2 separate regions of the Homo sapiens genome follow, and region 1 is linked to region 2. A link means that fine-mapping ties the variant in region 2 to the expression of a gene that starts in the linked region. Tissue or cell type: whole blood. Region 2 holds a variant in brackets; the other region holds the start of a gene. All regions are shown on one strand. Distances are between the middles of the regions.

Region 1 (5,000 bases), 25 kb after region 2:
AATTAAAGTACACTGCCACCAGGTGGTGGCCAAACCCTTCCTCTCAGACTTGAATCCCTCTCACATAGAGATCTTGGTTAAATGCAGATTCTGATTTCTAACAAGCTCCCAGGCAATGCTGTTGCAATGGATCTGAGACCTCACTGTACGTTTTATAAGAGCCTAGAGTGTTGGAACAGAGTGAACTGAAAGACAGGAACAACAGCAAGAGCACACAGTTGTGCAAGACTTAGCAGCTGACCACCTACATTCTTAACCATTTTCTCATTTGTTCCTCCTAACCCAAACGAGATTGGTATTCTTAGTTTCTTTTACAGAAGAAAATAAGAATTGAAGAGATGAAAAAATTGGTCTAAGATCTCACAGCTCGTTTTGGCAGGGCCTAGGCTGACTCTGGGTCTCCATGGACACAGTAGATCTCAATGTCTATTCCCTCTCTTGGGGCTGTTGCTGCCAGATTTGGTGCAATGGTTTCCTTAGGGGTGGAATTCATGACACATGGAGAATCACCAGGAACCAAATGAGCCTGTGGCTGCTCTGATCCCACAGACCAGGAGCAAAAGCCTGCAGCCCAGGCTTTAGATAGCAGATGAGTTGGCCGGATCAAGATCTTTTGAAAATCTGTTTCTGAATGCAGTTCCTGGCTTTGTGCCAAGGGAATCCTCACTAGCGGCCCCAACTCCTCTGTTATCTCCAAGTCCCAGTTTTCCCCTGTGATCTCCAATGCTGAGCCCAGAGCACAGAGAGAGCCCCCATCTCACCCCTTGCTAGCCCTGGAGGGTGAGTTTCCTGGGGCTTGAAGGGCGTGTTTCTGGCTCTACTCAGATTTCTGGGAGGACACAACAAGCCGATGCATGAAAAAGTCCCAGGGCAAGGAAGACACCAGCAAAGGTAAGGCATTTAAAGCAGTTTCTTTCTCTTTCTTTTCTTTCTTTCTTTCTTTCTTTCTTTCTTTCTTTCTTTCTTTCTTTCTTTCTCTCTCTTTCTTTCTCTCTTTCCTTCCTTTTCCTTCCTTCCTTTTTTTTTTTCTTTTTTTGAGATGGAGTTTTGCTCTGTCCCCCATGCTGGAGTGCAATGGCGTGATCGGCTCACTGCAACCTCCACCACCCGGGTTCAAGCTATTCTTCTGCCTCAGCCTCCCATGTAGCTGAGAATACAGGTGCCCGCCACCCTACCCAGCTGATTTTTGTATTTTTAGTAGAGATGGGGTTTCGCCCTGTTGGCCAGGCTGGTCTCGAACTCCCGACCTCCAGTGATCCGCCTCCCTCAGCCTCCCAAAGTGCTGAGATTACAGGTGTGAGCCACCACGGCACCTGGCCCTAGAGCAGTGTTTTTCAAACATCAGTGGCCACCAGAGTCATCTGGAAGGCTTGTCAAAACAAAAATTCCCACTCTACACCCTCAGTGTCGTAGTAGGTTGGAGGTGGCCTGAGAATTTGCATTTCTAATACGTTCCTGTAGACGCTGCTGATCCCAGGAGCAGCTTTGATAGGAGAGGTGGAGGCAGGGGCTTTTAATCTCTGTCATGACCAGGACACTCAAGCTGCCCCTCATCGTTTGGGCACACCCTCCCCCATCAGTAACCCCCTCCTCACTGGTACATCTCCTGCCGGGCCTGAAGCTCCTCCTGGCGCTGTTGCTGGAGCACAGGGTGGTGGTCTGCCCAGGACACCTTGGCTGTGGGAGAAGGGGAGTAGGTTGGGGTGGGGAGAGAAACTCACCATCACTACCACCAGCCACACAGTCTCCACGATTGCCACCCTCTACCAGGTCCCCTCCTCCCATAAGTACAGTTTCTCCTACACCAGGCTGCTACCTCCCGCTCCCCAAGGCTCCGCCATTCCCTCTCCTCTGCCCGCTACTCTGTGGCCACACCAGCTCACCTCTCCATTTCACCTGCCCTTCTCCCCAACCCCCAGTCCCCTACCCCTTCCTGTGCTCCCCCTGCAGCCCCAGCCCGGCCCGCCCCTCACCTGTACCCTCCTGCAGCACCAGGGTCCCCGCCCCCTCCAGCCACTGGTAGCAGGGGAAGAGGAGGTGGCCGCCCCGCGGCGGTGTCAGCTGGAACCAGCGGCAGAACCAGGCATCCGGGGCCAGGGGCCCCAGCAGGGGCAGCACTGGGGGCGCCTTGTGCACGCGCAGCAGCAGCACTCGGCCTACGTCCTCCGGGAGCGTCACCTGGAAGTCCTCCTCCTGAGGGGAGGTTAAGTATGCGTCAGGCCGGACCCTCCTGCTCGCCCCCTTCACCTCCACCCCATCCACTCCCACGCACTCACAGCGCCCGCAGTGAACTCCTTGCCGAGATTGTCCAGGGGCAGTGGGGGGCTCTCTCCCCGGGTCCCCACGATGCTGACAGACACTTTGTCCCATGTGCCAGCCCCGAAGGCTTCTCCGGTGGACACCCTGACCCTGAACTCGGCCATGCTGCCAGCCTAAGTCCAGCTCTCTACGGCGCACAGGGCTGCAGAGCGGGGCTCCCCCCTGGGACACGCCTGGTTATTGCCCCTGGTTATTGCCACTGACTCCAAGCCCAGTGGACTCCTCTAAAAAGCACGTCCGTTTCAGGGCGGGGAGGGGCGGGGCGGAGAGGCTGGAACACGCAACTAAAGTGGGGGTGGGCGGGGGATTGGCAGCGCTGGGAACAGGAGGGACTAAGAATACCCTGAGGTTTGGGGAACGGGGCCTTTCAGTGGTGGTGCCAGGCCAGAGAGCCTAGAGTTGGGACCCAGTTGGGGTGGGGGTAGATTTGTGCCCACCACGTCTGTTTGTTTTCCTTCTTAGCCTTAGAAGTCTATGCAAAAATATCACCCCATTTCCCACAACTCTTCTTGGGCCTGCGTTCATTATTTTTAAAATTTATTTATTTATTTATTTTTGAGACAGAGGCTTGCTCTGTCGCCAGGCTGGAGTGCAGCAGCATGATCTCGGCTCACTGGAACCTCCTCCTCCTGGGTTCAAGTGATTCTCCTACCTCAGCCTCCCCAGTAGCTGAGACAACAGGCGAGTGCCACCATGCCCAGCTAATTTTTGTATTTTAGTAGAGACGGGGTTCCACCATGTAGGCCAGGATGATCTTGATCTCTTGACCTCATGATCCGCCTGCCTCGGCCTCCCAAAGTGCTGGGATTACAGGCGTGAGCCACCGCGCCCAGCCTACATTCATTATTTTATTTCATTCAATAATTAATGTTCAGAACTACCTCTGTGCCAGGTGCTATGCTCACTGCTATTGATAAAGGCCCAGGCAAGACCTAGTGCTTGCTCTCATGGAGATTAAAAATCAAGTGTGAGGCCAGGCACAGTTGCTGGCCAACATGGTGAAACCCCATCTCTACTAAAAATACAAAAAAATTAGCCAAGCGTGGTGGCGGGCGCCTGTAGTCCCAGCTACTCAGGAGGCTGAGGCAGGAGAATAGCTTGAACCCGGAAGGCGGAGGTTTCAGTGAGGTGAAGTTGTGCCATTGCACTCCAGCATGGGCGACAGAGCAAATCTCGGTCTAAAAAAAAAAAATCAAGTGTGAGAGAAAATAAGTAAACCAACACATAATTTCAGATGATAATAAGTGCAATGAAGGAAATGAAACAGACTAATGTGAAGGAGTGAGAAGCAGAGGTGGGAAGGGAGGCGTTCAGAGCCTCAGAGGAGGTGAAAGGATCTGTCTGGGGAACAGAGTTTTGTGCAGAGGAAACTGTTCCTGAAGAGGCCCTGTGGTTAGGAAAAGCTTGGCTTGTTGGAGGAGGGAAAGGCAAGAGTGCAGTGAGGGAGGGATTTGGGGGAGAGATGCCAAGGGGAAGTTATGGATTTGGGCTTTGGGGGAATAACATAACAGATTTGGGGTTTTCGGTCTGGAGATGCTAAGTTTGAGATGGCCATTAGACATCCAAGTGGAGAACCCACGTCTGGGCATAGAGCTCAGGACTGCAGGTGTGCATCTTTGAGTCACAAGCACACAGGTACATCTATACCACAGGCTGGTGGAGATCACTAGGCAGAGAATATCCTATAAGTAGAGAAGAGAAGAGGCACAAGCTGTGCCCTAAGGTCCTCTGATATTTGGAAGTCATGCAAAGGAGTGGAAGCAGCAAAGTTCAGTCAATGAGGTAGGAGGAGAACGATGCCGGCAGACACTTTGTCCTCTTGTGCCTGTCACAGTGTTTCATGAAAGCCAACTGAAGTGAGAGTGACTTATCATGTATATTCCATATATACCATGGAATACTATACAGCCATGAAAAAGAATGAGATCATGGTCAGGCATGGTGTCTCACACCTGTAATCTCAGAACTTTGGGAGGCTGAGGCAGGCAGATCACGAGGTCAGGAGTTCGAGACCAGCCTGACCAACATGGTGAAACCCCATCTCTACTAAAAATACAAAAATTAGCTGGGTGTGGTGGTGACTGCCTGTAATTCCGGCTACTCAGGAGGCTGAGGCAGGAGAATCATTTGAACCCGGGAGGCAGAGGTTGCAATTCCAGCTACTCAGGAGGCTGAGGCAGGAGAATCACTTGAACCCGGGAGGCGGAGGTTGCAGTGAGCCAAGATCGTGCCACTGCACTCCAGCCCTGGTGATAGAGCGAGACTTCGTCTCAAAAAAAAAAAAAAAAAGAATGAGATCATGTCCTTTGTGGGAACATGGATAGAGCTGGAGGCCATTATCCTTAGCAAACTAACACAGGAACAGAAAACCAATATTGCACGCTCCAGTTCTTACTTTCAATTCTTTAGGATATATACCTAGTAGTAGAATTGCTGGATCATATGGTAACAGTATGTTTAATTTTTTTTTTTTTTTTTTGAGACCGAGTCTCGCTCTGTTGCCCAGGCTGGAGTGCAGTGGCGCAATCTGTGCTCACTGCAACCTCCGCCTCCTGGGTTTAAGCGATTCTCCTGCCTCAGCCTGCTAAGTAGCTGGGATTACAGGCGCCTGCCACCATGCCCAGCTAATTTTTGTATTTTTAATAGAGATGGGGTTTCACCACATTGACCAGGCTGATCTT
Region 2 (5,256 bases):
AGTTGAATTTGAGAAAACTGGAATACTAAAGAATGCTGGATACCAGAACGGCCCGTCCTTCCGGGCTTCCGCTCAGAGAGGCCCTTTTGATTCCCTGCCAAAACTCACCAGTCCCGGGTCCCATTCTCCTGCTACTTTGTCACAAGGCAGTGTAGATGATTTGTTAAACCAGAGTGATCATTTAATAAGAGGTTGCATTGCTTTGGGGCGTGGCACTGGTGCTAGGGTTTCTGAACCAAGAGTTTGACCTGTATAGTTTAAATGCATCGTGCACCCAGCGGCAACAAGGATATTGGAGAGTGAGCACTACTGAATCTTCCAGCTTGGTTTGCTTGTTTGTTTATTTATTTATTTATTTATTCGGAGTTTCGCTCTTTCGCCCAGGCTGGAGTGAAGTGGCGCAATCTCGGCTCACTACAACCTCTGCCTCCCAGGTTCAAGCAACTCTCCTGCGTCAGACTCCTGAGTAGCTGAGATTACAGGTGCCTGCCACCATGCGTGGCTAATTTTTGTATTTTTAGTAGAGACGGGGTTTTGCTGTGTTGGTCAGGCTGGTCTCAAACTCCTGACCTCAGGTGATCCACCTGCCTCGGCCTCCTAAGCTTAGTTTCCTTCCTTCCTTCCTTTCTTTCTTCCTTTCTTTCTATAGTCTCTCTCTGTCGCCCAGGCTGGAGTGCAGTGGTGCGATCTCCGCTCACTGCTAGCTTTGCCTCCTGGGTTCATGCCATTCTCCTGCCTCAGCCTCCAGAGTAGCTGGGACTACAGGCACCCGCCACCACCCTGGCTAATTTTGTTTTTGTATTTTTAGTAGAGACAGGGTTTCACCATGTTAGCCAGGATGGTCTCGATCTCCTGACCTTGTGATCCTCCTCACCCTGCCTGGCCTGCCTCGGCCTTCCAAAGTGCTGGGATTACAGGCGGGAGCCACCATGCCCCACCCAAGCTTGATTTATTTTCAAGTCTGCATGCCTAGGCCCCCAAGCAAGCAGGCACAATTTTGGAAGGAAAAAGTCTTTCTGCTTCAGCCTTTTTTTCCCCTTAAATTGCTGAGGATATTCAAGGACAGGTGTTCCCAGTGTTGGGGACAGTTTGAAGAAGTAGGTATGAAGTGGGGTGTAGATCAGTACACAGACCCCAGTCCCCTGACTGAATTTCAGCTGCCTCAGGAGCTTGGCTTCCTGTGGGACCGAAGTCACGGGCATCCAGAGAGGGCAGAAAAGTAGCATTGGTGCTTGCCTTGGCAAAGAAGCAAAGTTGTTAGAACTTACTTTGGCCATTCTTTTGGAAGCCCTGATAGGTGAGAATGGCTGGGCAAACATGGGCAATTACCCCACGATGAGAGAGGACATGTTGGGTGGGGCATCCTCCCAGGGTCCTTCAGCCCTGACCTTCTTCCCACACAGAAGCCACTGCTGGGCTGGGCGTGGTGGCTCACCCCTGTAATCCCAACACTTTGGGAGGCTGAGGTGGGCAGATCAGGAGGTCAGGAGTTCGAGACCAGCCTGACCAACATGGTGAAACCCCGTCTCTCCTAAAAATACAAAAATTAGCCAGGTGTGGTAGTGGGTGCCTGTAGTCCCAGCTACTCAGGAGGCTGAGGCAGGAGAATCGCTTGAACCCAGGAGGCAGAGGTTGCAGTGAGCCGAGCACAATGGCAGGACGTGCACATTCTCAGGGCAGAAGTGAGCTTCTTCAAAGGACAGGTAGGAACTGGTGGCAGCACAGAACAAGTCCTGTGATTTCCAGAATGTTCTAATTTTGGCTTTCTGGTTCTCAGTCCCACAAGGTTGCCACCAAGGACCCTCTTGCCCTGCTGCAGCCACCTCGCCCTTCCTCCCTCACCCTGCGGACCTGACACCTTGGTGTGGGGAAGATGAAGGTACACTGATCCCTTTTCCAGACCCCTGGCTGCCCAGCAGTCCTGCAGTTTCAGGGCAGTGTTCCTGCAGAAACAAAGACAGAATGGCCCAGGCTGTGGAGGGGATCCAGGTGCAGAAAGGGAGATCTTAGCCCCCAGCCTCTCCCCTCCTCTCCCCAGACCTGGGGTGGGAGCATCTTTGAACCAGGGTGTTGGCCAGCCCCTGGCCTCTGCGTCTGCTTTGCCTCTTCCCCCAGGGATGGAGAAGCCCTGCCCACTCCACCTTCCCCCCACGGCAGACCCTGCTTCAGCACCTGCTTCAGCACCTGAGGTCGTCCCCATCCGTTCACTGAGCCCCAACTCAACAGCCCAGGCCAGAGGGGACCAAAGAGTAAAGTCGGTGGGAAGAGGAAAGAGAAGACATAGCTACACCCACCACCCCCAATACTGGGCCACGATGTTCTGCCCCCAACCCCTCTGCTTCACAGGCCTGTTCTCTTTCCACCAGCTTCTCCCTCTTCCACTCACTGATCCACCACTCAACTTCCCCACCTAATCCTCTTGTCAGAGCCGGTGCTCCCCTCCCCCACTTATCTTCCATCCTCCCCTCCCTGAGTATGGTTCCTCCCAACCATCCCACCTCCTCCTTCCCGTGCCCCTCATGTCACCTTTCTGCCTCCCCCCTCCCCACTGTGTCCACACCAGCCCCCCTCCCCTGACCCATGACCACCCTGG[T/C]CCCCCTCGCTCCCTCCATGCCCCTCCTGCAGCCCCGGCCCTGCCCTTTGCCTGCCCCCTCCAGCCACTGGTAAGGGGGAGCGGAGGGGGTCCCCAGCAGCCTCAGCTGGACCCAGCGGCAGACCCCGGAGTCTGGGCCGGACCTAGAGGGGGCGAGGCAGCGTGGCGGGGGGCGGGGGGCGGAGGGGGTAGGGGTGAGGTGGGGGAGGCGGGGAGGCCGGCGGGGGGAGGGGTGGCAGAGGGGAGGGGAGGCGGGGGACGCCTTGTGCAAACGCAGCAGCAGCACCTGGCCCGAGTCCTCAGGGAGCGTCACCTGGAGGTCTTCCTTTCGGGGGGCGGGGGAGTGGGCAGAGGGAGAAGGCATAGTAAAGAGTGGCTTATTACCTTTTGTTCCCCAGGACGCTTCCCCTTTCCACACTCTCATTCCGGAGGTCGCCATAAGCAACTTCCACAATTCTGGATGTTCCAGACCCACGACCGGACTAATTTTTGGTGGAGGGGGAGCAGTATCTTTATCTTCCCACTTTAATGGGTATGTTGATTCAAATCTTCTAACTAAAGTGGGGGGATTATATGGATCATTTCTATATTCGATCATAAAGGAGTCCCCAGCGCACCCAGCGTTTTGTCCGGTGCAATTTCTAGCAAAAGATTCCTTAGGAGCCCAGTCTATAATGACCCCATGAGAACCATTTCGCAAAACTACCGCATTATCTGCCACACAAACCTCCCAAGTAAGAATTTCTCATTTTTCTGACCATTCTGGATTCCTTTTAGGGCAAGCCAATCCCTTAGGCTTGCAATTTTGGACTTTTATATTTGACTGATAATAACTATCCCCTTAAGTTTTTACAGTCCTGATGGGTTGAAAAGACATTCCACTCACTACGTGATAACTAGGTTGAGAACGATTATGAGGAGGTACGTAGACCATCCAACTTTGTATTTGTAATGGCAAACATCCAGGAGCAATTCCTAAACAAACTGGAGGGTATTTATACCCAATTATCCCATTCATTAACATGCCCTCCTCCTCAGGCTATGCAGGACAGCTATCATAAGTCGGCCCAGGCATCCAGATACTACCATTTGTATAAACTTCAGTAGGGGAGTCCATCCAAGTGACAGGTCTAATCAAAGGAGGAAATGGAACATAAGCCCAGTAGTAAAATTTTGCTTAGCTGAAACAGCAGAGAGACTTACCGCCGTGGTGATTACCATCAAGGCAGCCAAGATCATATTACCCGGTGTAATCGCTAGTTGTTTCTCCTTTAGGGTGTCCTCTGCCAATTGAGTCAGCTTCTTTATCTGTCCCCATGTCAGTGGTGTAGCCTAGCGAGTCTTCTCCGTCTTCTGTTTTTTCTCCGAGACGCTCAGCTTCACCATTTTCCTCAGCTCCCGAAAAGACAGGTCGAAGGGACCGGTCTTCTTTCTCTTTTGATTCTTTCCTTTTTTCTGACCGGTCGGTGTAGGGTTCATTGTAGAATTTTAAATGTCTATTGGGTATCCAAATGAGTGTTTGATTGTCTCTTGGTGAAACACAAGGAAAACCCCTCCCCCAAGTAATACTTTTTCTTAATTTCCAAGTTTTGGTTCTGGTATCCTTCCACCAGACCATTTTTCCTTTCTGTGGCACACCCATGACTGCAAAACAAGATAATAAATGTCGTTTTACGTGAGCTGTGCTTTCTCCAGTTTGGCGTGTAGCCCAGATAAACCGAGAAAAAGTATTAACAGTAACATGTACGAAAGAAAGTTTTCCGAATGATGGGACATGAGTCATGTCCATTTGCCACACTGCATTTGGTTGAAGCCCCCTAGGGTTACCTTCAGGTTTTTGGGTGGGTAGCTGTAGCACTTGGCACTGAGGATGTTGTACTATATTTTTAGCTTGTTTCCAGGTAAATGAATATTTATTTTTTAATCCAGCAGCATTTACATGAATTAGGGAATGGAAGTTTTGAGCTTTTGTTCGCGTCTGTGTGAAGAGACCACCAAACAGGCTTTGTGTGAGCAACAAGGCTGTTTATTTCACCTGGGTGCAGGTGGGCTGAGTCCGAAAAGAGAGTCAGCGAAGGGAGATAGGGGTGGGGCCCTTTTATAGGATTTGGGTAGGTAGTGGAAAATTACAGTCAAAGGGGGTTGTTCTCTGGCGGGCAGGGGCGGGGGTTGCAAGGTGCTCAGTAGGGGAGCTTCTGAGCCAGGAGAAGGAATTTCACAAGGTAATGTCATCAGTTAAGGCAGAAACCAGCCATTTTCACGTCTTTTGTGATTCTTCAGTTGCTTCAGGGCATCTGGATGTATACGTGCAGGTCATAGGGGATATGATGGCTTAGCTTGGGCTCAGAGGCCGGACACTGTTAGAACAGGCGTCACTAATAAATTTGCTTGATTATTTAATAGGGTTAAAGGTCCTGGTAAGTTTGTGTGAGCCTAAATATGTGTAATATAAAAGGGAAAATTTTGAGTCCTAACTGCTTGTTGAAGTGAACTAAACAAGAAATTTAACTGATCATCAGAAATATGTTTTACTAAAGCTGTTTTTACCATTTTGGCAGCTTGGAATACGTAAGCAGAGTCAGAGATTATATTAACAGGTTGATTACAATCTTCCAATACAGATATAACTGCTTGTAGCTCAGCTCTTTGTGCAGAATGAAACT

What was found. PIP is the estimated chance that this variant, and not a neighbour inherited with it, causes the effect.
Region 1: it holds the start of ALOX15B, and the variant in region 2 is fine-mapped to the expression of ALOX15B in whole blood (INTERVAL, PIP above 0.99).

Annotation. Positions count from the first base shown.
Region 1 is chr17:8,036,579-8,041,578 of GRCh38, reverse strand. It overlaps ALOX15B (arachidonate 15-lipoxygenase type B), which reads right to left and starts at 2,520. Exons shown (of 14, transcript NM_001141.3): 1 at 2,277-2,520; 2 at 1,974-2,193; 3 at 1,596-1,677. The coding sequence starts at 2,423.
Region 2 is chr17:8,061,601-8,066,856 of GRCh38, reverse strand. No RefSeq gene overlaps it. Among named protein-coding and RNA genes, the nearest start is that of ALOX12B, 23 kb to the left of the region's middle. RefSeq lists an enhancer at 2,009-2,510. The variant T/C (reference allele first, on the strand shown) is at 2,594.